Linked DNA regions of Homo sapiens: regions 2, 3 and 4 are each linked to region 1. The links come from fine-mapping of genetic effects on gene expression. A gene starts in region 1. Each other region holds a variant in brackets. All regions are shown on one strand. Distances are between the middles of the regions.

What was found. PIP is the estimated chance that this variant, and not a neighbour inherited with it, causes the effect.
Region 2: its variant is fine-mapped to the expression of CD24 in whole blood (TOPMed, PIP above 0.99).
Region 3: its variant is fine-mapped to the expression of CD24 in monocytes after LPS (Fairfax 2014, PIP 0.95).
Region 4: its variant is fine-mapped to the expression of CD24 in lung (TOPMed, PIP 0.98).

The regions. Positions count from the first base shown.
Region 1 is chr6:106,971,294-106,979,399 of GRCh38, forward strand. CD24 (CD24 molecule) reads right to left here and starts at 3,436. Exons shown (of 2, transcript NM_001359084.1): 1 at 3,285-3,436; 2 at 1-541. The coding sequence starts at 3,353. The coding sequence ends at 368. RefSeq lists silencers at 3,788-3,937, 3,978-4,197.
Region 2 is chr6:106,844,227-106,852,332 of GRCh38, forward strand. No RefSeq gene overlaps it. Among named protein-coding and RNA genes, the nearest start is that of LINC02532, 61 kb to the left of the region's middle. RefSeq lists enhancers at 987-1,046, 2,677-2,726. The variant T/C (reference allele first, on the strand shown) is at 3,097.
Region 3 is chr6:106,105,057-106,113,162 of GRCh38, forward strand. PRDM1 (PR/SET domain 1) reads left to right here. Exons shown (of 7, transcript NM_001198.4): 5 at 1-877; 6 at 1,315-1,443; 7 at 1,855-4,882. The coding sequence ends at 2,430. Among named protein-coding and RNA genes, the nearest start is that of PRDM1, 23 kb to the left of the region's middle. RefSeq lists enhancers at 1-432, 433-1,146. The variant C/CA (reference allele first, on the strand shown) is at 4,035.
Region 4 is chr6:106,685,054-106,693,159 of GRCh38, forward strand. No RefSeq gene overlaps it. Among named protein-coding and RNA genes, the nearest start is that of LINC02526, 6.4 kb to the right of the region's middle. The variant A/G (reference allele first, on the strand shown) is at 3,346.

The DNA.
Region 1 (8,106 bases):
AATCTCCATTCCACAATCCCATCCTTTATTTCTATTCTTATTTTCAAGGTAGTATTAAGTGTCCATATTTCTCAAGCCACATTCAAGGAAATCATGTCTTAACTATTTTGGATGTTGCCTCTCCTTCATCTTGTACATGAAACTCCAGCAGATTTAATATTGGCATCCATCATCTAGTCAAACCTCTCACATGTTCTTCAAATCAATCAAATTTGGGATTCTCAACATTTTCTGTGTCAATAAAAGGTGTGGAATTAGTAGATTCGATGAAGACCTGTTTTTCCTTGCCACATTGGACTTCCAGACGCCATTTGGATTGGGTTTAGAAGATGGGGAAATTTAGAAGACGTTTCTTGGCCTGAGTCTCTTAAGAGTAGAGATGCAGAAGAGAGAGTGAGACCACGAAGAGACTGGCTGTTGACTGCAGGGCACCACCAGCCGCCTTGGTGGTGGCATTAGTTGGATTTGGGGCCAACCCAGAGTTGGAAGTACTCTGGGAGGAGTTACTTGAAGTTCCAGTTGTTGTTTCACTGGAATAAATCTAAAATACATAAAAAGTTACATGGATACATTTCCACATCACAGCTACCTCCATGTACTCTCATATAAAATTAAAGTAGGTGATATATTCTTAGATTGCTCTCTTACCATTGTTCTCTTACCCAACATCATTAACTTCTGAATTCTTGCTCAACCCACCAAGGTCATTCTCTTTAGTTTCAAAACAAACTACCTAGAGATGCCTCAAAAATGCCAAGTGGCAACAAGAACAAAAAAGTTATTCAATAACTATAACTCCTGTTTTTATTTCTTTGCAAAGGAAAAAAGGACCAGGTTAACTAATTCAGTTTCCAAGATTATATTGACTTAATGGCATTGCAATAAGGTCTATTTTCCCAGAAAGGGGGAGATTTTAAAGTTGCACAAAAAAATGGGGATTTTTAAATATTGTAACTGAGACTTATGGAACTAGAATTCATTGGGTCACTGTCTATCCTGGATTTGCTAGGTAACTTTCACATACTCAATTTAATACAGCCTTGGTAACTTAGCCTTTTCCTTAAGGGGGAAATGCAGTCTTATCTTCTCCCTTGAAATTTGAAATAGTAACTCTTCTAAAAAATGGCCACAATATTTGTGTTAAATTGAAAAAGAAAATGAGTTTTTCCTTTAAGGCAGAATGACTTCAAGAAAACACCATGAAGTCGGAACGATTTCACAAAAGACAACGAGAGGTTATGGTGTTAAGTTTCACCAGCAGCAGCCTCACTGGTCGCCAAGCTCATTGCTGTGGCCAAGAACCAAGGTTCTCCCAGTGTCCCAGCGTCTGAGTGGCATCATTCACCACTGATTTTTCAAGCCACGAAATGCACAGTCCAGTAGGGCACGTGATAATCTCTCCTTTGTCATGGAACAAAGGCAGATCGGAGTTTTCAGCCCTCACTGCAAGGGAGGGTTTACAAGAGCTTCTGATTACAGGCTGGAGGGAGGACGTGGCACCAGGCAAGAGTCTGGGCCCCGTGTACATTTGGCTGCCTATTAATCCAAAGATAAAGCCCTCCTACATCAGCACCAGCTCCTTTTGTTGTAAAATCCATAAGGTCATTAAACAAATATTGACTACAGAAATGTACAAATCCTATCCAAAATAGATTAGTGACAACAACAAAAAAATCTTGATCAAGTCAAATTTATTTATCGGGCACCTACTGTGTGCAAGATTTAGTGTGTCCCATCAGGAAACGGCACTCCCAATAAAGAAAAGCATTAATATGGTAATTTACTTAAAACAGGGTGCCTGTTTTGGACACCTTGTTTGGGATCCCGCAAAGTAACCTGTTCTTTATTCATGCAATGAGTTTTACTGCAGCAGGTGATGTTTTCTTTTTAAAACCTGGTGTATCAATCTGAGGATCTAAAGATCCTCTACACCAACAAAAAAATTATGTTTATTAAACTGACACTAAACAAAATTTTCTCTCCCAAGCTAGATTTATTCGCATTATTAAAACTTCTCACTTACAATGTTGGAGGAAAAAAATCTGGTCGGAGAGAAGATGGGGCGGGGAGTGGAGGGGGCCGGTTTCTCGCAGCCGCGCCCCTCCCCCATCAAAGAATTGAGGAAGGCTCGGGAGCGCAGCGGACTGGGAGGAAGACAATAGGGTACGGTTACCCCGCCAGCGGTGGGGAAGCGCGTTCCACACTCAGGCTGCACTCCCAGGTGAGCCCGGACTTTCGATGTCTGGGGACGGAGGACGCAGCGCGCCCAACTTTGGGGGAGAAGCCCCAGTGACAGTCCTCGATTAACCCCAATCGAAGGCGCTGGAGAGCCGTCACTCCCATCCTCCAAACCCGAACTGACCCAAACAAACGTACCTTCTTCGCCCCCGCCCCCGCTAGGGTCTCCCAGGCCCAGCCCCCGGTCTCTCTCGCCGGCGCGGTGCATCCATACACCCTCGAGGCAGCGCTGCGCGGCCCCGGGTACCCGCACCCGGGGCGAGGTTCCCCGGATGGAGGATCTAGGGAGACCGCGCTGGTAGCGGCGACCCGAACAAAGCCTGGCGGGGACTCGGGACAGAATCGTCCCACCATGCTGCCTCCCCAGAACTAGCCAATCTGGGCTAAAATAACATGGGGATCCTAAGATGACAAGCGATGGACGTGAAAGGTTGCCTCGCAGAGAGCGCAGCGTCAGGAGAGGGTCCCCGCCTCGGCTTCAGCCCGGAACCGGGGTTTGTTTAAAAAGGGCCAGATAGCCGTAGCTTCTCCGGGATACCCAATCCAACTCCGAGGGTGGAGGATGGGCGTGAGCCGCCCTCCCCGAAAGGGACCGTCGCCTCTCTTTGTGTAGAGCGCGGGGAGCGCGAAGACATTCCTAGGGGAAAGCGAGTCCTCAGGGACCCAGGGACAACGTCCCCAGGGAGCCCGAGCTCTCCAGGCGCTAATCCCTGCAGGCACCTCGGGCCTCTGGGTGAAAGTGGGAAGTAGTCACCTGGCTGCCTGGGAAGGGACAGCGTGGAACCTGGGGTGGGGCAGGGTCCTCTCAGCCCGCACGCGGAGCTGCATTGTTCCCAGGGCCGTGGGAGGAGGGGGGGCAGCACGCAAGGGAATGGAAAAATGGGGTCCACATGGCCCTCTCCCCTGGTCAGCTAAGCAAGATTCTCTCCCGGTCCCTGTCCGTGGCCCGAGGCAGGAGCGCAGGACGGTCCCCCGGGACCGGGTCCATCTCCCCTGCCCCCACCCCGGGAACGGCCCTCGAGCCCCGCCGGGCGCCAGGGCCTCACCTGCGTGGGTAGGAGCAGTGCCAGCAGCAGCAGCCCCAGCCCGAGCCTGGCCACCATTGCTCTGCCCATGTCCCCTCCGTCGGTGCGCGGCGCGTCTAGCAGGATGCTGGGTGCTTGGAGAACCGCTGGCTCCGGGCGGGCGCAGGCAAGGTGGGGAGCGCGGCGAGCCGGCGAGACCTTATATACCAGGAAAGCCACAATAGCCGTGACGTGGCGCCGCCCGCCCACCCCGGCTCCCCTCCGCCGCCGCCCGCCGCCTCCCCGCCTTCCCCGCCCCGCTCCGGGTTCCCCAGCGCCCCCGCCGCCGCCGCCACTGCCACCGCCGCTCCGGCCCTCGCGGGCCGGGAGCCCCCCGGGCGGGCGCCGCTGCAGGTGGGCGGGCGCCGCCGGCTGCTGGTACCCGGCTGGTATCCCCGCGCCGGCTGCGGGCTGCGGGCAGGCTGGCACAGGCGCCCAGCGCCTCCGGCACAGGACCCGGGGCACACACGCGAGCCACACACGCCGCGCTGGGGGCCGGGCCCAAGTTTCCTTTGTTTCCCGGGACCTGCCATCTTACCCCCCAAAAGAAAAGTCCGCGCCTCCGCTGCGGCGGGGTAGCCGCCTGTCCTGGAGCAAGTGCATTGCCACTCAGACTGCAAAATGCGCCCCGGGGACCCGAGAGGGGCTGCGAATTCCAGTGCGACCGCGTGGGGGGCGGGCGCCGGGACCCCTCGGGCAGGGTTATCTCTCGGCCCGCCGCAGAGGAAAGGGGAACGCGGCGGGCGTGGCGCGGACGCGGGCCGGACGCTCACCCTGGCCGACGGGACCCGGGCGCCGCCTAGCGCGAACCCTTCCCGGCTGGTCGGCGCTCCTCGCAGGCGGTGTCCGGGTCCGGAGCGATCTGCGCGCTCGGCCCCGCGGCCGCGCCCTCCCCGAAGCCCTTGCTTTGTTCTGTGAGCGCCTCGTGTCAGCCAGGCGCAGTGAGCTCACGGGGGCGTCCCGGGTCCGCATCTTCCCAGGAGCTGGGGAGCCGCTCGCTGGGCGCAGACCCGCTGCCTGACGCTGCAAACTACAGGGTTTCGGTCCCCCGCGCTCCTGCCTGCGGCGGGCGAGGAGGAGACGGCCCACCCTGAGGGGACCCCCTCCGCGGCCCTGAAGCCCCCACCGCCCTCCCCGAGCGGCTCTGCTCCCAGGTTCTACTCGGGGGCAGGAACCTCCCCTCCTGGCGGTCCCACTACAATTCACCGTCCCTCTCGAATTCCTGGGGATACACTTTTTCGGTCTCTGTTGCCCGTCATTCGTTTAAAGAGCAGAACCGTTCGAGATAAAGGCATTTACTTATCCGTAGTTGCCATTAGGCAATTTAATGAACCGGCACAAAGAGGAGATTCGTCATCACTCTTTAGATTTTGGTGGAATACTTTTTTCCTATCCATCTTATTGTGAAAACTTTCAAGCATACAACAAAAGTTGAAGTAATTTTACTGGTGGAGTATTTTGAGTTTAAATTTTAATTGCAAGACTTAATCTTTTTATTGAAGGTTTAGCCCAAGTGTTTTTCAGTCTTTAAAGCAAACAGCAGAGACCAAACCTAGTATGGTTGTAAATTTGTTTAAATTTCAGTTTTGCAGAACACTCTCGTTAGTATTTTTGGTTCAATTTTTAATTGCAAGACTTAATACTTTTATTTAAGGTTTAGCCCAAGCATTTTTCGGTCTTTAAAGTAAACCACAGAGTAGTAAGATTCTAAATTTGTCTAAATTTCACTTTTGCGTGGCAGTCTCATTAAAACAAAGTAAGTTTCAGGGAAGCAAAGTGACAATGAAATCTGCAGTAGGTTTGTTGACTGAATAGTGACTGAATTGGTTTGTGCCTTCAAGGTCAGTCACTTTAGCTCAGTAACTTTCCAAGCACGTTTAAGATGTGCTTGGGAACACAAGAATTTCTGTCGAGCACCAGTGGACTTTCCTGTTTAACAGTGTACCACATTATATAGAAATACTTTGGCCGGGCGTGGTGGCTCACACCTATAATCCCAGCACTTTAGGAGGCTGAGGAGGGCTGATCACCTGAGGTCAGGAGTTCCAGACCAACCTGACCAACATGGTGAAACCTAAAATCTAGTCTCTACTAAAATTTAGTCTCTACTAAAAATCCAAAATTAGCCATGCATGGTTGCTCATACCTGTAATCCCAGCTACTTGGGAGGCTGAGGCAGGAGAATAGCTTGAACCTGAGAGGTGGAGGTTGCAGTGAGCAGAGATCAGGCCATTGCATTCCAGCCTGGGCAACAAGAGCAAAACTCTGTCTCAAAAAAAAAAGAAAAAAGAAATAGTCTGGCCCAGCTTCTCCATTCCTTTTCCGGGTGAAAAAAATGGACTGTTTGTGACTCAGGAGTGCCGGGTTCCAAGGCAAGGAACATACTATGTCCTCCACAAGCTGCTTGTTGAACTAACTGGTGGTATTCCTAGGATAAGACAGCCTCTAAAGACAGACTGCCAGAGTTCAAACCGTGGCTCTGCTAATTTTGCTGGAGACAAAAAGCCTCAGTTCCTTCATCTATAAAATGGAGATAATAACATCATTACTAATTAGTTATTAAAGAGTTATTGTATATATAAGTGTTAGAATACTGCCTGCCTCAGAGTAGTAGCTCTCACTTAATATTTGCTCTTCCACTGAAGGTGCCAGCAACCAGAAGGTAATTACCTTCTCTGCCACTGTGTGATACGTGAAAGAATATCAGTCTCCAAATAATTCCCAAAACTGGCAAGGCACTCAGAATCTGTGCTTTGTGAACCATTTCATCACCAGCTAATGAGACTGGATAATTCACGTAGCAAAGCCCTTCACCTCTGCCCAGGAGTTCCCCCTGGGCATCCTACCGGGGGTGTTGCCCAGGACTTTGACAACTGGAGGCCCAACACAGGTAAGATACTTCTCTTTACAGGTCTCCACCCTACCCTTTTCCTGTACAGCTAGAAACTCAAGAAAACTGCCTGATTTTTCCTTTGCAGTTCTTTTGGCTTGTGATTCTTTCTTCCTATTCTTTATCCACTTCTCCTGGTTTTTCATAGTTTGTTTGCTAATAAAACCTGAGCCACGGCTGGGTGCAGTGGCTCACGCCTATAATCCCAGCACTTTGGGAGGCCGAGGCAGGCAGATCACATGGTCAGGAGATCGAGACCATCCTGGCTAACATGATGAAACCCCGTCTCTACTAAAAATACAAAAAATTACCTGGGCATGGTGGCACACGCCTGTAGTCCCAGCTACTCGGGAGGCTGAGGCAGGAGAATCGCTTGAACCCAGAAGGCGGAGGTTGCAGTGACCCAAGATCGTGCCACTGCACTCCAGCCTGGATGACAGAGCAAGACTCTGTCTCAAAAAAAAAAAAAAAAACCTTAGCCAATAATAACTCACGCCACTAACAAATTGAGACTCTTACCAGTTATCCTGAACTTTTTGTTGAGACACATGGCCAATTTCCATTTTATAGAGAAAGTGTGGTATAGAATGATTTTGAAACAGATTGATTGCATAAATTGATGTATGTGTGGAAAGTTATAACTTTCAGTTTTCATAGCTTTCATGAGATAGTATGAAAAACTCCCTCATTTGATGCTGGTTCTCTTCTGAGAATACTGAGGGAGGAGCAATGCTTACAATTTCTTTTCTTTTTTTTTTTTTTTTGGAGACGAAGTCTTGCTCTTGTTTCCCAGGCTGGAGTGCAATGGCACGATCTCGGCTCACTGCAACCTCTGCCTCCCAGGTTCAAGCGATTCTCCTGCCTCAGCCTCCCAAGTAGCTGGGATTACAGGTGCCTGCCACCATGCCTGGCTAATTTTTATATTTTTTTAGTAGAGACAGGGTTTCACCATGTTGACCAGGCTGGTCTCGAACTCCTGGCCTCAGGTGATCCGCCCGCCTCAGTCTCCCAAAGTGCTGGGATTGCATGCATGAGCCACCGTGCCCGGAAAATGCCTACAATTTCTAAGGGCAGACCTGAGACCAGACTGGCATAGCACATAGTGGATTCTGGGGTCAAATATGGATTTGAATCCTGCACCACCACTTTCTCTTTTTTTTTTTTTTTTTTTGTAGACAGGGCCTCACTCCGTCACTCAGGACGGAGTGCAGTGGCTCATTGCAACCTTCACTTCCCTGGTTCAAGCCATTCTCCTGTCTTAGCCTCCCGAGAGACTATGTCTTGCCTACCCAATATCCACTGCACCTGGCATGCAATCAGTCCTTGCTGGTTGAATGGACTAATATTAAGGAAACAGGTTAATTTGCTTTTTAAGATAAAATAGTAAATCCTGTTTCTAGAGGAACAGAAGACACAGGGGTTAATTATTTGACATTTTTAGCACTTTTGGCAAAATAGGTATGAAATATAATGTGAATCCAATAAAGGTGTTCCATCTGTGCTTTATAGCACAAATAGTGGCTGGAATAATCAAATATTTAATATAAATTCTGTTCTACAACATGATGCAATTCTTAGTTGTGTTCATAATACTCTTTTTTTTTGAGATGGAGTCTCACTCTGTCGCCCAGGCTGTAGTGCAGTGGCGTGATCTCGGCTCATTGCAACCTTCGCCTTCCAGGTTCAAGTGATTCTCCTGCCTCAGCCTCCTGAGTAGCTGGGACTACAGGCGCGCGCCACTACGCCCGGCTAATTTTTGTATTTTTAGTAGAGACGGGGTTTCACCATGTTGGTCAGGCTGGTCTGGAACTCCTCACCTTGTGATCTGCCCGCCTTGGCCTCCCAAAATGCTGGGATTTGGGTGTGAGCCACCGCGCCCGGCCCTCTTTTCCCTCTTAATTCTGTGCCACCCTG
Region 2 (8,106 bases), 130 kb before region 1:
AGTATCTTGGATCTGTGTTTTGAAGCCGAGGTAATAAGCCTTTTGAACAAACTGCAAAATAAAGGACAAGGAGCAAATTCAAAAGGACTTTTGTGCAGATTCTTTCCTATCATTTCATGATATGGTTTTCACATCAGATATTTAACAGCTCATCAGTCTGATTATAGTACCATTAGTCCCACTTCTAAGCCTGATGAGCCACTCTGGTCTTGTTTCTTACAAAAATTAATTTTAGGTTTTTCTCAATTGGGATTAAATGTCAACCAAAATGTACTACATGAAAAGTCTTATTAACATTATCATAATAACAACTTATGCTCCTTACACATTAAAGCACATAAGACATTTGCCTACAATGTGTGATTGAAATCCTTTTCTTACCAACCTTAAAAGAAAAGCAAAAGATGCTGGTACTGAATATGAATAAAACATTCTGTCAAGAGCTTTTTTGCAAATGCTGCTCTAATTCATGCAAAATCAAATTTATCTCCATTGGATTAAATTTAACTGATTCAGATCCACATGGCTGACCAAGATGGGGTGTTAAATTCCTTTAAAAAATGGTAACTTCGGAAATATCCATTGGATTCCCATACTCTTCTATTTGAACAGTCAAATGCCCTTTATGAATTAGCAATGAGATTTGACAGAACTGATTTTCCTTGGAAATTACGTGAGATGTTCTATTTTTAACCAGAAGCTAAAAAAGTGTGATGAGATCAATGCTTTAAATTAAGTCTGCCTAAAACCTCAAGAAAAAGTTCTCATCAAAGGAACCAACAAAATCACAAAAATGAGGAGCAGACTGGGGAAATCCTGGCTAAAATTCTTGATAGACAATAGTTGTCCTGTTATTCTTCTTTGCCAAGATAGCCAGGTGTCACTGTGATGGCTTAAGAAAAGAAAAGAAAAGGAAAGAAATGACAACACAACTTCCACATGAACAGCCAGAGACTAGAGGAAATCCCCAGTTACTGTAACTGAGCTAACTTCAGCATTATATTCTGAACCACTTCTAGAAATGAAACCTTAAAGGCAAAACTTGGGGTTTTAATCTGACAGAAAAGTGAATTGGAAACATCTTTAATTTACATTTTAGAAAATGAAGAAAAGCATGTAGAAAAAAAATTGAAAGCCTTACAACCCAGGAACCTAGAAATAATAACTCCTGTATTTCTAATATTGTAGGCATTCCCAACCAGTTTTTGTTTTTTTTGTTGTTTTGTTTGTTTTGTTTGAGGCGGGGTCTTGCTCCGTTGCCCAGGCTGCAGTGCAGTGTCATGATCACAGCTCACTGCAGCCTTGAACTCCTGGGTTCAAGCCATCTTCCTGCCTCAGCCTCCCAGGTAGCTAGTACTATAGGTGAGTGCCACCACATCTGGCTAATTTTTAAATTTTGTGAGGAGAAAAAGTCTTGCTTTTTTGCCCAGGCTGGTCTTGAACTCCTGGGCTCAAGCGATCCTCCCACCTTGGCTTCCCAAAGTGATGGGATTTATAGGCATGAGCCACTGCACATGGCCTGCTTATTTATTTTAATGTAGTTTTTCTTAAACCTTTGAGGAAAGTCATCACTCAACGATTATTCCAAGTTGGAAGTATTCAGTGGCACAGCACCATCAAAAAGCCCTGAAAAAGGCATTCTCCAGTCTGAAAAGAGAGCTGAAATAGCCTCTCCCTTAATAAAAAGTGCCTGTAATCCCAGCACTTTGGGAGGACAAGGCCTCAGGAGGATTGCCTGAGCCCAGGAGATGGAGGCCAGCCTGAGCAATACGGCAAGACCCCGTCTACAAAAATCAAAGAAATTAGCCAGGTATAGTGGCTGACAACTGTGGTCCCAGCTACTTGGGAGGCTAAGGCAGGAGGATCCCTTGAGCCCAGAAGGTCAAGCCTGCAGTGAGCCATGTTTGCAGCACTGCACTCCAGCCTGGGCTACAGAGCAAAACCCTTTCTCCAAAAAAAAAAAAAAAAAAAGAACAAAAATAATAATGATAATGATGATTTCCAGAGGAACTTCTGCAAGTAGGGAAAGCCAGCAGTACCTACAAGCCTCAATTCATCCTGTGTCCCCTTGCCTCCACCATGACCCAATACCCACTGTTGCTCTGATAAGTGGAACTGGTAGAGTCTTGGGGAAACTTTAATAAGCATTAGAGAGAGTAGAAGGAAAATCAGCACAGAGAAGTGGAGGTACAGGCTGGTTTAGGAGGTGCTGGCCTGATCTGCCCATAGCTGGCTGTTCCCAGGCCTTGGTGTGGCCTTCTCTCAATGGTAAGCCATGGGCAGCCTCAGTCATTTGCTGAGTTCCAAATGGAAGCCAATCATGAACATCCTCAGCTCAGTCCTGGCAGGCCCCAGCTGCTCTTGCTTCCATTGCTTAACTTCTCTCCTCATTTCTCTGCTCCAGGCCCACCCTGGGCAAAATTGCAGAGTAGATTCAAGATCCCCTTCAGCAACCTGGTCTCGTGGTTCTGCCCAGAATAAATGGGTGGGATGACCCATTCTTTATGAATTGTCTTTCTGGAATTGGAGAGCTTTGCAGAGATTAGAAAGAGGCCTCATCTGGGCACACACAGCACTTGACACAGGTGTCCCCCCTCCTCCTGCTGAAAGCAGCCGTAGGACACAGGTTAACTAGTGGAGAGCAAGCTGGGTCTCTATCCCACAAGCCTCTCAGCCTCAGGCCTTTGTGCGGGTCATGAACCAAACAGTTGAGGCATTTGGGGGTCAGGGAACTTTCCTGGTACCTCTGAAATTTCTTCACAGGGGCAAGTGTCTTTTCCAGTCACCTAAGCAGACCTTGTTCTAGGCATCCCTGGACCAATATCATGGATTACCTTTGAGTTTTTCCTAACTGTTACAAAACGCTTTATGGAAAAGTTGTTTCTTTTTGCCTAGTGTTTATTTCTGTCTCCAAAGCAAGCTTGCTTTCATTTCTTTCACTTTTCACAATTTGGCAGAAAATGCTTTTCTCATTTGCCTCTTATGTGAAGACTTTTATCTTCTCACTTCCCCTTTCTTTTCTTCCTAGAAACGTCTTATCTCTTACCATCCCTGAATGTCCCCTCCAAGGTAAGGGAACCAGCTCTCACTTTTGAG[T/C]GTTTACCGAAAAGTTTCCATGCCACGTGGATGTGTCTCCTTGGGAGGGAGGTGCCTCGGGAGGGGGCTGGCTCCTTGGGGGCCTAGTCAGGCCTCGGGCCTTTCCTGGGCAGAGGTGACGAGGACAGCCAACCTAAAGTAACTGGGTTTCTGGGAAAGCCTAGAGGCCCCAGAGAGTCCTTTCACACAGTTCTCCACAGGTTACCATAGATATAAGGAAAATTTTTTTCAGCACTGATTTGCTTAAGCACTCTGTAAAATGCCGTTTTGAATTACAAATGAAGATGTGTATACCTTACTAAACACAAATATTTAAAATGGCAAATAAAAGAGTTAAGATGATTTAGAAATTTTAATGACCTAATGTATTAGTACAGTTTTAGTTGGGAGTTGGAGGACCATGGTAGATTAAGGTGAGAGAAAATACTGGGTGCTCAGTTGTTCTAAGCTGTATAATGTTTTGCAAAGTATAATCAAATAGAAAGTTGAAAGGTTCCTTGGTAGCTTTAAAATGTAAACTTTATACAAATCATGCAGAATGTTGTTATACTACCCTTCAAGTTATTTCTGGTATGTTACACTTTACATAAATACCTACATTAAGCTTGACTTCTTGATTAGAAAGCAAAGAGGAAAGGGAGCGCATTAAAGTGTTAACACAGGTGATATGGTCTGGCTCTGTTTCCCTACCCAAATCTCATCTTGAATTGTAATCCAGATTGTAATCCCCACGTGTTGTGGGAGGGACCTCATGGGAAGGGATCAGATCATGGGAGCGGTTCCCCCATGCTGTTCTTCTGATAGTGAGTGAGTTCTCATTAGATCTGATGGTTTTATAAGGGGCTTTTCCCCACTTCGCTCAGCATTTCTTTCTCTTGCAACCATGTGAAGAAGGACATGTTTGCTTCCCCTTCTGCCATGATTGTAAATTTCCTGAGGCCTTCCCAGCCATGTGGAACTGTGAGTCAATTAAACCTCTTTCCTTTATAAATTACCCAGTCTTGGATATTTCTTCCTAGCAGCATGAGAATAGACTAATACAACTGGGCATCAAAAATTCAGGATTTGAAAATTTGGGCATTAACAGGAGAGGGGCAATATTACTTCCCACCAAAGCAATATACAAATCTTATTTTTAAATTTGCTAATACACGTGATATTCCTTCCGACAATTACATTACTTTTTAAAATCTAAACTATTTGTTATTAAAATGTACAAAAGACTTTTGGTAAAACATTTAGATGGCAGGCAAAATGAATGAACCAAACAATTGGATAAATCTCATTAGTTTAATAAATGGTAACTAAAAACTAAAGTGCCAAAAGATTACATACAATATTATCCACACCTTTTTCACAACATTTAGAATAACTACAATAAAAGTATACACTTTTTAGGAATATGTGCAATAAAACTCTATAAAAAGGAAAGCAAGGGTATGAGGAACATGGAATTCAGGAGGAAGATGATCATGGGTGGACAGAGGATGAGGCAGGAGTGAGGGAACCAAGTAGTTAAATGTAAATTATTTTAAAGATCTTAGCTTTTATTTTGAATGGTGGCTTCCCAGACACTAGCTGCAGTATTAAAATGACTAACCCAGGAAATAAAGGAAAGGGAAAAGATAATATTGACAGTATCTAGAAATGTACAAATATATAAAACATATTGAATTTCTAGACCAATATCCCATAAGTGTCCATTGCTGACAATTTTCTCTATATCTTTCCCCAATTTTTAATCTTGGCATTTTAAAGCATATCCTAATTCCCCAATTAAAAAGCAATAAATAGCACACATGCCCAGAGAAAAGGCCATAAGTGAAGTCACTTGTGTTAATAGTGATCATAAGAAGAGGCTATTGCATAAGTTACAATATGTACAGTACACTAAAGTCTTTGGAAAGCACGGTAGAGTTAAGTCTTTTGCAAAAGACCTGAAAACTGTTGGTGATGGCAACCCACAGCTTCCTCCTAACTCAATTCAGACTGCTCTCTGCCCTCAGAGCTGCTGGACAGATAAGTCTTGAAGCTGTTTCTGTCTGACCTGAACTCCTAGGTTTAGACTAGAGCAAGGCAGCGGGGCTGGCGAGGACAGAAGGCTCTTAACAAATCATCATCCACCTCCTCACCTTCTAGAAAACAACAGACTCTTCAGCATCCAGAATCCAGCAGAAGAGAGACTGAAGTTTCTCTTTTTGTAAGAGAATTGGGTATAATAAATAAATAAATAACCTTTGTAGGTCTAGACCCCAAATGGAGAGAACATATTAATTCCTTGTTTAGTCTCTTCCTGGGACAAAGGTCCCACTCAGTCCTTTCTAATGGAGACCATGGCTGTCAGTCTCTAAGCAGGCTACCCCTTTAGCTTCTCCATAGAACAGATCACCAGTCTGCTTCCCAAACAGCCTACTTTCTCGATCCTATCTTAAGGAAGTCACACATCTCACACCATAAGCTTGAGCTGCATGTGGGGAAAGTGGGAAGGAAGTGGAGATGAAAGAGGAAATTACACCCCTAGCAGTTACAAATGACGGACTTAGATAGCATTGTCTAACCCAGGCCATTGGAATTCTGCACCATCCCCACTGCCCCTCTGCCTCCAACTGGGTTGCCACCATCTCTTCAATAAGCAATTAGATTTAATTAACATTGCACCCCGCATTTAGATGGTAGCGAATAGTGTGCCAGCAGACATTTAACAATTGGTTCTATGAAGAAAAAGCATTTGTAACGTGTCTATTTCCATGGTGTAAATGCTCTCATGGTGGCCAATTTCAAGCTGTCAACATGATGTCACCAGATGCAGATTGGGAACTGATACCACAGTCAGGTCTTGTGAGCTGCATTGAGCTGGCTCCCTTACACCACTAATTGTAATGCTTTCATTATAAGGTATTATTATTTTGGTAAGTGGATCTACAATTGGCCAATATTTTGCAGCCATGCCTCAGTTTCTTCGTTGTTAAAAATGGTAAAATAAGAACCACTTCTCCAGATTATCATGAGAGTCAAAGTGCAAAGCACATAAAATTTTCAAACCTTGTCAGTCCTGACTGGTTGCAGTGGCTCATGCCTGTAATCCCAGCACTTTGAGAAAGCCATGGTGGGAAGATGTCTTGAGCCCAGGAGTTTAAGACCAGCCTAAGCAACATAGCAAGACCCTGTCTCTACAAAAAATTTTTAAAAATAACCAGTCTGGTGACACATGCCTGTAGTCTCAGCTATTTGGAAGGCTGAGGTGGGAGGATTGCCAGAACCCAAGAGTGTGAGGCTGCACTGAGCTATGATCGTGCCACTGCATGTCAGCCTGAGCAAGAGAGGGAGACCTAGTACTTTGGGAGGCTGAGGCAGGAATATCACTTGTGGTCAGGAGTTCAAGACCATCCTGGGCAACATAGTAAGATTCTGTCTCAAACAATAACAATAATAATAATTTAAAAATATATACATCAAGCTGGGCACAGTGACTCACGTCTGTAGTCTCAGCACTTTGGGAGGCCGAGGCCAGTAGATCACCTGAGATCAGGAGTTCAAGACCAGCCTGCCAACATGGTGAAACTCCGTCTCTACTAAAAATACAAAAAATTTGGGCCAGGCGCAGTGGCTCACGCCTGAAATCCCAGCACTTTGGGAGGCCAAGGCGGGCGGATCACAAGGTCAGGAGATTGAGACCATCCTGGCTAATGTGGTGAAACCCCGTCTCTACTAAAAATACAAAAAAACTGGCCAGGTGTGGTGGTGGGTGCCTGTAGTCCCAGCTACTCGGGAGGCTGAGGCAGGAAAATGGCCTGAACCCAGGAGGTGGAGCTTGCAGTGAGCCGAGATCGCACCACTGCACTCCAACCTGGGTGACAGAGTGAGACTCCATCTCAAAAAAAATACAAAAAATTCGCCGGGCATCGTGGCGCGTGCCTGTAATCCCAGCTACTCGGTACTCGGGAGGCTGAGACAGGAGAGTCACTTGAACCAGGGAGGAGAAGTTGCAGTGAGCCAAGATCATGCCATTGCACTGCAGCCTGGGCAACAAAAGCAAGGCTCTGTCTAAAATAAAATGTGTATGTGTATATATATACATATATATATATATATATGTATATACACACACACACACACACACACACACACACACATCAATCCTGCTTCCGTCATCCTCTTGTCTTCTCATGTTGCACTTTCATTCCTAAAACTACTTTTGCAAAGATTGTGACAGTCAGAGGAATCTAGCATGGCTGACTCCATCTTGCTTCACAGGCTGGCTATCCTTGCTCATTCCTGGGCATAAGCCAGGCTAACCATGGGAGGAATTTTGTTTATAGTTTAACTTTGAAGCAAGGATGCTAATAGTCCTTCCATAAAACTAATTCCCTTGGCCAGGTGTGGTGGCTCATGCTTGTAATCCCAGCACTTTGAGAGGCTGATGCAAGTGGATCACCTGAGGTCAGGAGTTTGAGACCAGCCTGGCCTTTATGGTGAAACCCCGTCTCTACTAAAAAATACAAAAATTAGTGGAGCATAATGGCGGGTGCCTGTGATCCCAGCTACTCAGGAGGTTGAGGCAGGAGAATCGCTTGAACCCGGGAGGCAGAGGTTGCAGTGAGCCGAGATTGCACCACTGCACTCCAGCCTGGGTGACAGAGTAAGACTCCGTCTCAAAAAAAGAAAAAAAAAACAGAAAAACTAATCCCCTCCTCGTTCAGAGACTGAAGCTACCTTTGCAAAGCTAACTGTGGGAAGAGTCTGAATTCTACTAAAATGTAGGCATGATTTCTATCATCCCTTACTGCTCAGAAGTCCTGCAGCCAGAGGTCACAAAATCTGTGACTTCCCCAGTTGCTCCTATAGGTAATATCACTGTTGTAGGACCTAAGGTTGGTCTTTGAGATGGTTTTCAGACTTTTGCATTCTGGCAACCAGCTGACCCCATTTGGACCAGTGATTCATGACTCAACAAGTTCTGTGGCCCTCACCCAGAGGCAGACTCAGTGCATAAAGACCATTTTCCACACC
Region 3 (8,106 bases), 870 kb before region 1:
CCCCATCCGGGCCCCTCTGCCAGAAGACTTTTTGAAAGCTTCCCTGGCCTACGGGATCGAGAGACCCACGTACATCACTCGCTCCCCCATTCCATCCTCCACCACTCCAAGCCCCTCTGCAAGAAGCAGCCCCGACCAAAGCCTCAAGAGCTCCAGCCCTCACAGCAGCCCTGGGAATACGGTGTCCCCTGTGGGCCCCGGCTCTCAAGAGCACCGGGACTCCTACGCTTACTTGAACGCGTCCTACGGCACGGAAGGTTTGGGCTCCTACCCTGGCTACGCACCCCTGCCCCACCTCCCGCCAGCTTTCATCCCCTCGTACAACGCTCACTACCCCAAGTTCCTCTTGCCCCCCTACGGCATGAATTGTAATGGCCTGAGCGCTGTGAGCAGCATGAATGGCATCAACAACTTTGGCCTCTTCCCGAGGCTGTGCCCTGTCTACAGCAATCTCCTCGGTGGGGGCAGCCTGCCCCACCCCATGCTCAACCCCACTTCTCTCCCGAGCTCGCTGCCCTCAGATGGAGCCCGGAGGTTGCTCCAGCCGGAGCATCCCAGGGAGGTGCTTGTCCCGGCGCCCCACAGTGCCTTCTCCTTTACCGGGGCCGCCGCCAGCATGAAGGACAAGGCCTGTAGCCCCACAAGCGGGTCTCCCACGGCGGGAACAGCCGCCACGGCAGAACATGTGGTGCAGCCCAAAGCTACCTCAGCAGCGATGGCAGCCCCCAGCAGCGACGAAGCCATGAATCTCATTAAAAACAAAAGAAACATGACCGGCTACAAGACCCTTCCCTACCCGCTGAAGAAGCAGAACGGCAAGATCAAGTACGAATGCAACGTTTGCGCCAAGACTTTCGGCCAGCTCTCCAATCTGAAGGTAGGCCTTGAGAGAGAGCAGTCCAAGGGGCTGTGAGTGCATGCTTGTGTTTGTATTTAGCTTGCTTTCCATGGGGTATCGATTGCATTTGCAGTAGTATGAGCCCCCGGTTGGGGATAGTGGGTATGGATTCCGCCTGGCTTTTGCCACTTCTAGCTCTTTGACTTTGGACAAGTGACTTCCCTTCTCCTGATTTTCTTCTGAATAATAAAAAAATTAGGGGTTTGGACTAGAAGATTAGGTGAAACTCCCTGCTAGCCTGTGATTTTTGTGCTTTTAAGAAAAACACCATTCTGAAAACATGAAGATTTCTTCTTTTTAAGACTGTCTTGATGCTTTTCTTAAGATATTTGCATCAACACTTGAGTCTTGGAGCAGAAATGTTAGGTCTCAGAGCCAGCTTGAGAGCAGAGCTAACACATGTGGCTTCTTCCCAGGTCCACCTGAGAGTGCACAGTGGAGAACGGCCTTTCAAATGTCAGACTTGCAACAAGGGCTTTACTCAGCTCGCCCACCTGCAGAAACACTACCTGGTACACACGGGAGAAAAGCCACATGAATGCCAGGTGCGCAGTATTTTCTGGGTAGACCTTCTGACCTTTGTAGAAAATGTCTGTGAGTCACCCTCCCATGTCCTATATAGCCCGTAGTTAAAGCCAACACCAGATTCTGCGTTGTCCCATCCTGGACTGATGGCACTATGGTCCTTCCCAGTACTTTGTATCTGCTGATGACTTGAGATGGCACAGCCAGCTTCCAGTGGGTGGGAAAATGGTAGGGGAAATAAACAGCCCCTCGTGTGCTGTGTGCCCACATCCCCCCGTTTGCTTAATACCACACTGGAGGTGCCACAAGGAGGCTTCTCACCTCCTAGGTTGCTGGGCGTTGGCCGGTAAGCCTGCCCCTCCCGTTGGCAACTCTTAATCTTCTGGCCTTCCTGTCTCCCTTCCCTGCTGTCTCTCTCCCCTACACTGTAGGTCTGCCACAAGAGATTTAGCAGCACCAGCAATCTCAAGACCCACCTGCGACTCCATTCTGGAGAGAAACCATACCAATGCAAGGTGTGCCCTGCCAAGTTCACCCAGTTTGTGCACCTGAAACTGCACAAGCGTCTGCACACCCGGGAGCGGCCCCACAAGTGCTCCCAGTGCCACAAGAACTACATCCATCTCTGTAGCCTCAAGGTTCACCTGAAAGGGAACTGCGCTGCGGCCCCGGCGCCTGGGCTGCCCTTGGAAGATCTGACCCGAATCAATGAAGAAATCGAGAAGTTTGACATCAGTGACAATGCTGACCGGCTCGAGGACGTGGAGGATGACATCAGTGTGATCTCTGTAGTGGAGAAGGAAATTCTGGCCGTGGTCAGAAAAGAGAAAGAAGAAACTGGCCTGAAAGTGTCTTTGCAAAGAAACATGGGGAATGGACTCCTCTCCTCAGGGTGCAGCCTTTATGAGTCATCAGATCTACCCCTCATGAAGTTGCCTCCCAGCAACCCACTACCTCTGGTACCTGTAAAGGTCAAACAAGAAACAGTTGAACCAATGGATCCTTAAGATTTTCAGAAAACACTTATTTTGTTTCTTAAGTTATGACTTGGTGAGTCAGGGTGCCTGTAGGAAGTGGCTTGTACATAATCCCAGCTCTGCAAAGCTCTCTCGACAGCAAATGGTTTCCCCTCACCTCTGGAATTAAAGAAGGAACTCCAAAGTTACTGAAATCTCAGGGCATGAACAAGGCAAAGGCCATATATATATATATATATATATCTGTATACATATTATATATACTTATTTACACCTGTGTCTATATATTTGCCCCTGTGTATTTTGAATATTTGTGTGGACATGTTTGCATAGCCTTCCCATTACTAAGACTATTACCTAGTCATAATTATTTTTTCAATGATAATCCTTCATAATTTATTATACAATTTATCATTCAGAAAGCAATAATTAAAAAAGTTTACAATGACTGGAAAGATTCCTTGTAATTTGAGTATAAATGTATTTTTGTCTTGTGGCCATTCTTTGTAGATAATTTCTGCACATCTGTATAAGTACCTAAGATTTAGTTAAACAAATATATGACTTCAGTCAACCTCTCTCTCTAATAATGGTTTGAAAATGAGGTTTGGGTAATTGCCAATGTTGGACAGTTGATGTGTTCATTCCTGGGATCCTATCATTTGAACAGCATTGTACATAACTTGGGGGTATGTGTGCAGGATTACCCAAGAATAACTTAAGTAGAAGAAACAAGAAAGGGAATCTTGTATATTTTTGTTGATAGTTCATGTTTTTCCCCCAGCCACAATTTTACCGGAAGGGTGACAGGAAGGCTTTACCAACCTGTCTCTCCCTCCAAAAGAGCAGAATCCTCCCACCGCCCTGCCCTCCCCACCGAGTCCTGTGGCCATTCAGAGCGGCCACATGACTTTTGCATCCATTGTATTATCAGAAAATGTGAAGAAGAAAAAAATGCCATGTTTTAAAACCACTGCGAAAATTTCCCCAAAGCATAGGTGGCTTTGTGTGTGTGCGATTTGGGGGCTTGAGTCTGGGTGGTGTTTTGTTGTTGGTTTTTGTTGCTTTTTTTTTTTTTTTTTTTTTAATGTCAAAATTGCACAAACATGGTGCTCTACCAGGAAGGATTCGAGGTAGATAGGCTCAGGCCACACTTTAAAAACAAACACACAAACAACAAAAAACGGGTATTCTAGTCATCTTGGGGTAAAAGCGGGTAATGAACATTCCTATCCCCAACACATCAATTGTATTTTTTCTGTAAAACTCAGATTTTCCTCAGTATTTGTGTTTTTACATTTTATGGTTAATTTAATGGAAGATGAAAGGGCATTGCAAAGTTGTTCAACAACAGTTACCTCATTGAGTGTGTCCAGTAGTGCAGGAAATGATGTCTTATCTAATGATTTGCTTCTCTAGAGGAGAAACCGAGTAAATGTGCTCCAGCAAGATAGACTTTGTGTTATTCTATCTTTTATTCTGCTAAGCCCAAAGATTACATGTTGGTGTTCAAAGTGTAGCAAAAAATGATGTATATTTATAAATCTATTTATACCACTATATCATATGTATATATATTTATAACCACTTAAATTGTGAGCCAAGCCATGTAAAAGATCTACTTTTTCTAAGGG[C/CA]AAAAAAAAAAAAAAAAAAAAAAGAACACTCCTTTCTGAGACTTTGCTTAATACTTGGTGACCTCACAATCACGTCGGTATGATTGGGCACCCTTGCCTACTGTAAGAGACCCTAAAACCTTGGTGCAGTGGTGGGGACCACAAAACAACCAGGGAGGAAGAGATACATCATTTTTTAGTATTAAGGACCATCTAAGACAGCTCTATTTTTTTTTTGCCACTTTATGATTATGTGGTCACACCCAAGTCACAGAAATAAAAAACTGACTTTACCGCTGCAATTTTTCTGTTTTCCTCCTTACTAAATACTGATACATTACTCCAATCTATTTTATAATTATATTTGACATTTTGTTCACATCAACTAATGTTCACCTGTAGAAGAGAACAAATTTCGAATAATCCAGGGAAACCCAAGAGCCTTACTGGTCTTCTGTAACTTCCAAGACTGACAGCTTTTTATGTATCAGTGTTTGATAAACACAGTCCTTAACTGAAGGTAAACCAAAGCATCACGTTGACATTAGACCAAATACTTTTGATTCCCAACTACTCGTTTGTTCTTTTTCTCCTTTTGTGCTTTCCCATAGTGAGAATTTTTATAAAGACTTCTTGCTTCTCTCACCATCCATCCTTCTCTTTTCTGCCTCTTACATGTGAATGTTGAGCCCACAATCAACAGTGGTTTTATTTTTTCCTCTACTCAAAGTTAAAACTGACCAAAGTTACTGGCTTTTTACTTTGCTAGAACAACAAACTATCTTATGTTTACATACTGGTTTACAATGTTATTTATGTGCAAATTGTCAAAATGTAAATTAAATATAAATGTTCATGCTTTACCAAAATTTGTCTAGTGTCTTGAGTGAAGGGTCAGTGAGCGACATCTCCATACTGTACAGATGGCACCAGAACAAATTTTGAACACAATGCAATTTGTCTCTCCCCTGCCCCCACCCCTGTTCTTCTGCAGCACCCTCTGGGGTGCCCTGATCTCCCCCGGCTCCTTCCAGGAGTATATTTGTGCGTGATCTGACAGCATTGATTTGTCTCTCATAACTAAGATTTTTCTTTATGAACTATAAAAATGTTCTCTAAAGGAAGCATTTCAAGCATCAGCCAGTAAGTGGGAGACGATTTGTTTGCTTTGTGAACTTTTACATTTTATTTCGTCAATGGACATGGGGTGGTGAGCAGATAAGGAGGACTTGGATCACTTCCAGAAATGCCCTGCTAGCTTGTGCCAGTCTGTGTGCGTGTGTGGAGACTCAGCACACTTATGGGTGTGGGGCCCTGGGAAGCTGGGTCAGGGAACACTTTGCCCATTGGTGACAGCGGCTTCAGTAGCTTCCTCTGGGCAGGCCATGGGGAGTGCCCTACAACCCATGTTTACTCCTTCACATGTAAGCACGTTTGCTATTTGCTACTTGTCCTTTTTTTTTTTTTTCTTTTTTTTTTTTTTGAGACCAGTTTTTGCTCTGCCACCCAGGCTGGAATGCAGTGGAACGATGATGTCTTACTGCAGCCTTTATCTCCCAGGCTCAAGCCATCCTCCCACCTCATCCTCCCGAGTAGCTGGGACTACAGATGCGTGCCCCCAGGCCCAGCTAATTTTGTTTGTTTTTGGTAGAGACAGTCTCACTATGTTGCCCAGACTGGTCTCCAACTCCTAGACTCAAGCAATCCTCCTGCTTTGGCCTCCCGAAGTGCTGGTATTACATGCATGAGCCACCGCACCTAGCCTACTTGTGCATTTAAAAAGTTTCCAGAAAGCTGCTTTCCCAGAATCTGAGCGTTGTTAGTGTGAGAGCCAGGTATCTTGGTGGTATGGCCATGTGGCCCTATGTGATGGGAACAAGTCTATGTGCTTAGCCATTCACGCTCCAGAAACTAACCTGTGTCCAGAGAAAAGGCTCACATAAATTCGAGTCTCATTTGATAGATGTAAGTAGGAGATGCTTCTAGAAAAGTGATAGTTCATTCAGTGAAAAGAAAATCTAAAAGCCCTTTGCAAGTGGTTTTCATGCTTCCCATTTCATCTATTAGCAAATTTATGGTTTTATGCGCATGCTGACTGCATGTTAAGAAAATAATGCTCCTGCTTACATTTGGACACTCAAAACTGCCTGATGCTTTGTTTTTAATGTTTCTTCTTTAAATTCACTTAAACATCTGTGCCCAGAATTTGAAATTCTGCCAACATGTAACTGTGGAGTTAAGAAAACCAGAACCCTATTGTCATAAACGTGCCAAACGGCGCTGGTTATATTCCTAAATTCTACAGAACCATTGTGGTAATAATTTTTCAAAACAAAGCCCAATAGGATCCTGAGAGTAACAGCTAACTACCATAAATCATAGTTCTTTACTTGGCAAATCATTTCTTTCTTTTTTTTTCTTGAGAGTTATATATCTTGGGAACACTTATGGACTTAGCTGTTTAATGAAACATTACATAAAAAGATAATATTCACTAATGAGCCCAAGTCCACCCAGCCAAAGTCCATACTGTTGGATCAAGACTTCATCCAGCTGTTTGTAGGACAAAGTAAGACTGAAGAAGCCACCTTTTTCTGAGTTTACCTTCAACAAAATAAAAACTCTGTGCAGAAATGATGCATTTAATTCCCTACCATGAGGCAATATATAGAATATACAGCACCGTGGGAGTCTATAGGCACATTTCTAGATATTTTTTCCTTGGGGGAAATGAAATCAATTTAGGATCCGTAAGTTGGTATAAATGAGCTCATTCCTTCCTCTGTGTGTGTGTGTGTGTGTGTGTGTGTGTGAGAGAGAGAGAGAGAGAGAGAGAGAGAGAGAGAGAGAGAGAGAGATGCCTTCTCTAAAAGGAGATAATGAGAAAAGGCCAGAACAGAGGAATGAAAGTAATTAGAGGCACATGGCAGATAATTTCTAATGCAAAACCAGGCCTCCAGGATAATCTGGTCTAGAAAGGAAGGCTGTACCACAGAAGGCAGCAGCTGAAAGAATTGATGAACAGAAGAGTTAGATAGAATGTGATCATTGAACCAGTCCAGAAGGCACTTCTGTTTCCTTTCAGAGATCATGGAGTTCTTTGTCCATAACATGTCATTTCATTCTCAGCTTCTGGCCAGAAGAAATCAGATCATTATGAACAGTGGCCATCAAATCTACTTCTGGGTATGAAGTGGCTACAAGAAATGTTTTAGGATTGGTGGATAAGCTTCCCTAACATCATTTTTCAAGCTTCAAGTCCTCAGAACCCAAGTTCATTTGCTCAAAGTGCTGCTGACAGCTGCTCCTTAAATAAGTGAAAAGTGATTTTAATCTCAATACAGTCTTAATCGTGTAATTCAGGCAAAAATGCAGCAAGATTCCAAAAAGTTATTTTTAACTGAATTTATGCAAATAGTCACTCTCCCTTTCCCAGTTTTACAGCATACTATAAACTAACAAACCCTCTCCTAGTTTGCTCTTCCTTCCAGGTTTGACAAGTAATGAACCAGGGTTGGCTGTGTGCACTTTTCCTTCTCTCTGAATTTTCGATAGGTTTTATTCAGCATAAACATGAATGTAGTCATCTTGTGGTTTTCCCCTACCCCCGTCATAAAAGAAAGGAGAAATGACAGATAAATAGCAATGGCTAATCTTGGTAAGAAATTCTTCAATATGTTAACAAAGGGGGTTCTCATGGAATTGTGGCAAAGTTCCCCAACTTCAGGTGTCTTAAGGATTCACCTGTGGATGATGGCAACCAGCTCTTCCCCATTGTGGGTAAGGAGCAGAACAAAGGAAATGAAATTAAAGCGTTGCAGAGGGGACTTTGGTTTAAGTCACCAAGACGAACACCTACATTTAGGGTTTGTAACACAATGGATTCCTTCCCATGGGAGGGAGCAGTCCCCATCCTTGCAGGGCTTAGAGAGGAATCCGTGTGTTTGAAAGCACAGGATGAACAAGATGCTCTGGTGAGCTTTTCCTAGGTCTTTAGTGTTTCATGTTCTTTAATGTTCCTGAGGCTTCCTTGGAAATGCTGTGTATTTAGGCAGATCTGGAGAGCCCGTCTGATTCTGAGGAAGAGTCTATG
Region 4 (8,106 bases), 290 kb before region 1:
AATCAAGGATGGAGGTTCAGGACAGTCATTCCAATGAAAAGTCAGGATGTCTTGCCCAGTTTTCAGAACTGAGCCAGTTTTGGGTCCCAGAACCCATGAATTGAAAGAGATTCTGGGGCCAGGTGCAGTGGCTCACACCTGTAATCTCAACACTTTGGGAGGCCAAGGTGGGTTGATCACCTGAGGTCAGGAATTTGAGACCAGCCTGGCCAACATAGTGAAACCCCATCTCTACTAAAAATACAAAAACTTAACCAAGCGTGGTGGCACACCTATAGTCCCAGCTACTTGGGAGGCCGAGGCAGGAGAATCACTTGAACCTGAGAGGCAGAGGTTGCAGTGAGCCGAGATCACACCTGCACTCCAGCCTGGGTGACAGAGCGAGACTCCATCTCAAAAACAAACAAACAGACAAACAAAAAACAAAAGACAGAAAGAGAGGCTGGGTGCCCAGGAAGGCACAAGTATTCACAGTATTGATTTCCCGATTCTTCCTCAGAGAGGTGAATAACCATTTAATTTGGTAACTTCACACTGGAGAAAGGGGACTATCCAAACATTCTGAGGACCGCTGGACACAGACTCCAGGTTGACAGTAATACCCAGAGACCTGAACCACCATCATGGGACCCTGTTAGAGCGGGTGCCAGGGCCATCCTTGTGGATGTACGACGTGTGCAGCCACACAGGACTTTGCATTTAGAAGGTTCTATGTGTGGTTTAATTATTGGTTTAATGCTCTACTGTTACCCGCTTGAAATTCTTAATAATTTTTTTAACAAGGGGTCCTGTATTTTCAGTTTCTGCTAGGCCCCTTAAAAAATATATATGCAGTTGGTCATGGTGGGGAATATATGAGGGGCCTGGTAATAAATGGAGTTATGGTTCAGGTGTGGCTTACAGTGAATTCATTGGGTCTGCACACTCATCCATAGTCATTTCCTAGTCTCTGAATGTATGTTTGGAATAGACATTCCTGGCAATTAACACAACCCCACACTGCTTCTTTGGCCAGTGGGGTAAGAGCTATCAGGGTGAATACAGCCAAGCGTAAAGCTCTGAAATTGGTACCCTCTTACACACACACACACACACACACACGCAAAATAGTAAAGCAAAAACAATATTGCATCACAGAGGGTCTGGCAGAAATGAGTGCCACCCTTAAAAACATAAAGAATACAGGGGTGGTGAACCCCATCATGTCTCCATTTAATTCACCATTTTGTCACCTGTAAACAAACAAACAAAAACAATTTGAAGGGTAACTGTGGACTAAGAAGTAGCCCTGATTGCAGCTGTTGGGCCAGATGTGATATCTTTGCTAGACCCCATTTAAATTTCACCAACTGTCCAAACAATGCCTCTTTTTCTTTTAAGGTATAGGAATCCCATATGAAAACATACATTGCACTTATGTGTCGGTCCAGAACAATTCTGCAGCGTTTCACCCTCTCTCATATCTTTTTTTTTTTTTTTTTTTTTTTTTGAGACGGCAACACTTGTTGCCCAGGCTGGAGTATGATGGCACGATCTTTGCTCACTGTAACCTTCGCCTCCCGGGTTTAAGCAATTCTCCTGCCTCAGCCTCCCGAGTAGCTGAGATTACAGGCAGGTGCCACCATGCCTGGCTAATTTTTTGTATTTTTAGTAGAGACAGCATTTCTCCATGTTGGTCAGGCTGGTCTCAAACTCCCGACCTCAGGTGATCTGCCCGCCTCAGCCTCCCAAAGTGCTGGGATTACAGGCGTGAGCCACCGTGCCCAGTCCACCCTCTTTCAGTTTAAAAGTATAGGCCTTTCATTTTGTAGGATGATCATCCACCTGGGTGTGTCCAGTGTTTACCCATGGCCAGACTAGAGCCATAGATTCTTGGAAGGAATACTGCAACAGTGATTCTGTGCTCTTTCTTAGCCCATCGCATCAGGAATACAAGGCCAACCCGTCCCACCACTGGTGACATTTCCCTTGATCACTCGTATTTGGAGTCTGCCAGTTTTCTCGACTGTAAAGTCACCAGTCCTCCCTTTGCATTTGGTTGGTTATTTTGTGCAGAAATATTCTGAGATTATGCCAACACCTGTTCCTCACCAAACTTCTACCTACCAGCCTTAGCATCCATTGATGACCTCGTCTCTATCAGCTACCACAGATTGGGCTGCCAAATGGTAATTATCTATTTCCATTATTCCTTCTACAATTATTAGCTGGCATTCTACTGAAAGGAAGTGTTTTCCCTTTCTCTTATTTGTTTATATAATCATGGATTCATGGATTTCTATTGTAATCAAGGTTTACAATTCTATACTCTTATTTATTTTTATGCTCAAATTGTCCTCCCTTTGGCCAGGGGATACCGCTTCAAGCTAGCTTCTATGTTCTGTCTTACCGCCTCATCATTCTTTGCACATTTTTACATTTTCTGACACAAGAGGATATTTCTGTGCCCCCAGTCCAGTGGGGGCCCGCCTTGGTATTTGGAAACCAAGATCTGAGAAGGGAAGCTTCACTTAAAACATTTTTGAACTTTGCATCTGCTCCCCAATATTTCTGTTTTCTCTAAGTTCCTTCTTGTTTCTTTTTTTCTTTTCCATGCTGGAGGCTTTCTTTAAATGCTTGGCCATTCTTGGCTGTCTATTTGCATGGGAGTGAGGCATTGAAAAGCCTGTGATTAGAAGATATGTATGGAGAAGAGAGGGAGAGGTCATTGACTGGTAGATTTTACTTTAGGGTTTTAGAGTGATCTGGCCAGGCCAATTCATTAAATTTGAGTGACAATCGATTTTTTTTCTGTTTATGGCTCGGTCAGTTTTTATCAGAAGAATCTTCCAGTCTCCTCCCTAGAAAATAGGTACCTAGATGCCAGTGTTCGTAGAGCTGAGTTGAGCAAAGAGCTAGGATCCCACACCTGTTTAGTAGATTCCTATATAATGCCCACATTCTGTATGGAACTTTCACCCTCAGCTGTGCCTGGTGTCGTCAACCCTGGAGTCCCCAAGATTCAGCCTCTTTAAAGAATGAATCTTTAAAGCAGAGGACATACAGAGCATTCAACCTAACTCTTTTACAGATTTTTAACCAGTGCTGTTTTCTGCCTGGTGCCTCTAGCTCCTGAGCTTTTTATTTTGGGAGGTTGGGGGTGAGGTGAGTGAGGCATCCTTTGGCCAGAGTAAGCCTGGTTCTAGACTTTTCCTGGGGATACATTTTGATTTTTCTTATTTCCCAAATCAGTGGTTCTCAGCCAGCGGAATTTTACCCTCAGGAACATTTGGCAATAACTGGAGGCATTTTTGGTTGTCACAACTAGGGAGGGGTGCTACTGGCATCTAGTGGGTAGAGACCAGG[A/G]ATGCTGCTACAGATGCCATCTACAGTGAAACATTCTATGGCTCAAAATGTCAATAATACCAAGGTTGAGAAACCTTGCCCTAAATCATTTAGTGCAAACACTTCCAGCTTCTAGTTTTTTATGCTACTTCATTTTTTTCTTTTGTTCTCTGTTTTTCTGACTTTTAAAATCACATTGCCTTTTAAAATTATTTAATGTCATTTAGGAGTTGTTTCCAGAGGGAGTGATAGTAAACATAATTGTCTAACTGGCACATTTAACCAGAACTCCTGTGGTGGCATGTGAATTCATATTTGCAAAAGTGTTTCAATTCCTGTCTCAAACACCGGCATAGACAAATGTTCAGTGTTAGGAAGAATGTGTTAACCCAGGAGTGAAACAGAAAGCATGTGGAGTCGGCTAGAAAGGGACTTTGTGTCTTATGTAACATACAATTGCTCTGAAGGTAAGCCGTTAATTTTTTAAAATAAAAATGCAGAAATAAAAGCTGCAGGCTACAACAGTACATTCGCAGTCGAAATGTAAAAATACTTTTTTATTTTCACAGGGGCTGAACAGAATTTTTATGAAGGACATTTGGCTCCTGCACGTACATACATTATGGGTTTGTGGGGTTTTTTTTGTTTGTTTTTTTTTTAATTGAGATGGCGTCTCACTGTGTCTCCCAGGCTGGAGTGTAGTGGCACCATCTCGGCTCACTACAAGCTCCGCCTCCCGGATTCACGCCATTCTCCTGCCTCAGCCTCCCGAGTAGCTGGGACTACAGGCGCCCGCCACCACGCCTGGCTAATTTTTTTGTATTTTTAGTAGAGCCGGGGTTTCACCGTGTTAGCCAGGATAGTCTCAATGTCCTGACCTTGTGAATCTCCCACCTCGGCCTCCCAAAGTGCTGGGATTACAGGCGTGAGTCACCGCGCCCGGCCTGGGGTTTTTTTGTTAATTAAATTAAATTAAATTTGTCTGAGACAGGGTCTCACTCTGCCACCCAGGCTGGAGTGCAGTGGTGTGATCTCAGCTCATAGCAGCCTCAACCTCCAGGGCTCAAGTAATCCTCCCACCTCAGCCCCACACCACCCCAAGTAGCTGGGACTACAGGCACATACCACCACGCCTGGATAATTTTCGTATTTTTTGTAGAGATGGGGTTTCACCATGCTGCCCAGGCTAGTCACGAACCATACATTATGTTTAAACTTACCACGCGTGCCTAAGAGTCATTAGCATTTCCCATTGGTTGCTCTGGTCAGTGGTGTTGGCTTAAGCTGAGACTAGATAACATAGGACTTGCTGCATTTACACTGAATCTTAAGACAGGAACCCAGCAGGCCATCACTAAAGAGGTTTGTAAGTAACTAAGTGTAAGAATACAGAATGGGAACTCTTTCGTGTGTACCCAGAGACTCCATTCCCTCCACACCATGGACTCGTCATTCTCTGAAAGCTCCGTGTGCCAACAGTGAACATGCATTGGGCATATTAAGTGTTTTGGTCTTTTATTCTGGCACCTCATTTAAAAGTATAACACTTTCGTGAGGTCCTTGACAAATTAATAAACCCACTTATTTATTTAAATAAAATAAAACTTTTTACAAAGTCTAATTAGAAATTGCTCTGGACTAGAAAACAGCTTTAAAATGATGTCGTTCTTTTTTGTTGTTGTGTTGTTTTTGTTTTTGAGACAGAATTTCGCTTTTGCTGTCCAGGCTGGAGTGCAAATGGCACGATCTTGGCTAACTGCAACCTCCACCGCCGGGGTTCAAGAGATTCTCCTGCCTCAGCCTCCCGAGTAGCTGGGATTTATAGGCGCCTGCCACCACGTTCAGCTAATTTTTCGTATTTTATTTATTTATTTATTTGAGACAGAGTTTCGCTCTTGTTGCCCAAGCTGGAGTGCAATGGCATGATCTCGGCTCACTGCAACTCTGCCTCCCGGGTTCAAATTATTATCCTGACTCAGCCTCCCAAGTAGCTGGGATTACAGGCATGCGCCACCATGCCCGGCTGATTTTTTGTATTTTTAGTACACGGGGTTTCTCCATATTGGTCAAGCTGGTCTTGAACTCCTGACCTCAGGTGATCCGCCAGCCTCGGCCTCCCAAAGTGGTGGGATTACAGGCGTGAGCTACCACGCCCAGCTAAATGATGTAGTTTTATCATTGCTAGTTTTCCAGTGGACTTGGGAAATTAATATATTCCCTATGAAGGAAAATAAATTAAGTAAAAGAATCAATCACTGTGCTAACAAGAATGACTTTTGCATACCTCTGCAAAATAAGCTCAGTGAGTTTTTGTGAAATCAAATGTATGAAATATAAGTTAAAATAAAGTTTTGAGGAGCAGCTTTTTGTTTTTTTTTTTGAGACGGAGTCTTGCTCTGTTGCCCTGGCTGGAGTGCAGTGGCACCATCTCGGCTCACTGCAAGCTCCACCTCCCGAGTTCACACCATTCTCCTGCCTCAGCCTCCCGAATAGCTGGGACTACAGGTATCCTCCACCATACCCGGCTAATTTTTTGTATTTTTAGTAGAGACGGGGGTTTCACTGTGTTAGCCAGGATGGTCTCGATCTCCTGACCTTGTGATCCGCCCTCCTTGGCCTCCCAAAGTGCTGGGATTACAGGCGTGAGACACCGGGCCCAGCTCCGAGGAGCAGTTTTTAAGTGTATTCCCTAAGATTTTTTTTCTTATTTTAACTCAAGCTTTTTCTTATTTTTGGTCAATAAGGGTTTTTATATAGTTAAGAAAATTATCCTTGTTAAAAGCTAAGTCTTTGGTTGAAAATCATACACATACTCTCCCAGTATCTCTGGATGTGTCCTTTTCCATGAAAAACCTCTATGGTTCTCAAAAACACAGTAGAAATACCTATATAAGGAAAACTTGATAAATTTACATATTCAATATTAAAGAATTGCTTCAATTGTGTAAATAGTTCCATTTGCTATTATTTGAAGAGAAAAGTATTTAGGCAGCCTAAAAAGGAAATGTAAGCCTGCATTCATGATGGTGTTTATTATAGATAAAATGCTTCTGAAACTAAATGATTTCAGTAGTCCTTGACGTAAAAGTAAAGGCAAAAACATACGATATCATTTCTTTCTGATGTCATTTCCCATTCTCATAAAGAAAGCAAGTAAACATAATTGCATTTCAAATAAAGTATCTTGGTTGGCTAAGGTTAAATCAGGTTTTAAGCTATCAGGAAATTTCTTCCTTCAGAGAGATTAGAAGACCTACCTGTTTCTCCTGGACGTGAAACATAGAGTTCCAGTAACCATAGCCATACAGAAGATATGTCTCCCAGAGCCACACTAAAGTCATCACTTCCAGTCACTCTCATCTAAGACATTGGTAGTTAAACACATTTTAATCTGTGGCATTGAACAAAGGTGATATTTCTATGCTGTCAAGTGCTAGTAGAGTAAATGAAAGACTAAAATAACAAATTGAAAATGCTCCTATCTTTGAAAAAAACCTTTTTTTATTATTAAGAATATCAACCTCTTTATTAAAAAATTAGAAAATGCAAGTAAATTAAAAGAAGGAGCCTGTAATCCCACCATCCAGAGGAAACATGGTTGATCTGTTTCTATAGTGTATATTCTTCTAGACTACTGAATAATCGTATGCACCTTGAAAAACTTACATAATATAGAAAAAAAATCTTTTGCACAAATAGTATTATATCCAGTCCTTTTAAAATAATCTGGACTTTTAATTCCAGAGGTCCTGACATGATCTCTTTCCTTTGAAAAGCAAAGCCTGCCATCTGGTTTCTGCAGGTCATTAAAGGGTTTTTGCTGGAGTTTATCCTGGCAGGGGACTGCCAGGCAGTTGGGCTTCGGTGGCAAGTCCTGACTCACCAAGTCGGCGGCATCACATGACAACTTGCTCCAGCCTCTCCTTTGTAATGAATTTGGCTTCTACTGCTACACAAAACACCCTTGGAGACTAAAACCTACAAATGTTATGCATTCCTAGACTTGGAGAGAAACTATAGCTACCAAGCCCATTCTTTGTCCTAGATTCAAATGAAAACACTGTAATGTGACCTCCCACGGGTTTTCCTCTATAATAAATTTACAGAACTTCTGAAAAGATTACTAATAATTAATTATTTCCTTGTCCCCTCCCACCCCTTGTCAAATGACTCTGAAATCTAATTTCTTTTCCTTCTGACAAACAGAAAAAGGAAAGCTACGAAAGCTCCCTGTACAATTCCCTCACCTGTTTACAGCCCATTCTTATTTCAACAATCCTAGGAACTGGCAGAAAGAGAGGGTGCAGGGAAGAAAGGGTGTTACTTGTCACCCAGTGCAAGCAAACAAGATGTTGTGAAAGAAATTATGTCCTTCCAAAATTTGTATGTCAAAGGGCCTTTAAAGAGGTAATTAGGTGGCCGGGCACAGTGGCTCACACCTGTAATCCCAGCACTTTGGGAGGCCGAGGTGGGAGGATCACTTGGGCCCAGGAATTCAAGACTAACTTGGACAGCATAGTGAAACCCCACCTCTATTTGTTTTTAATTTTTTAAAAAGAGGTAATTAGGTTGAATGAGGTCATTGGGTGGGGCCCTAATGTAATCTGACTGATTTCCTTGTAAGAAGAGGGAGAGGCACCAGGGGTCCACACCCGAAGAGGGATAACTGTGTGAAGAGGCAGCAGGAGAGCAGCCATGTGCAAGCCAAGGAAAGAGACCTGAGGGGAATCCAACTCTGCTGGCACCTTGATCTTGGATGTCCACCCTCCAGGACCGCAAGAA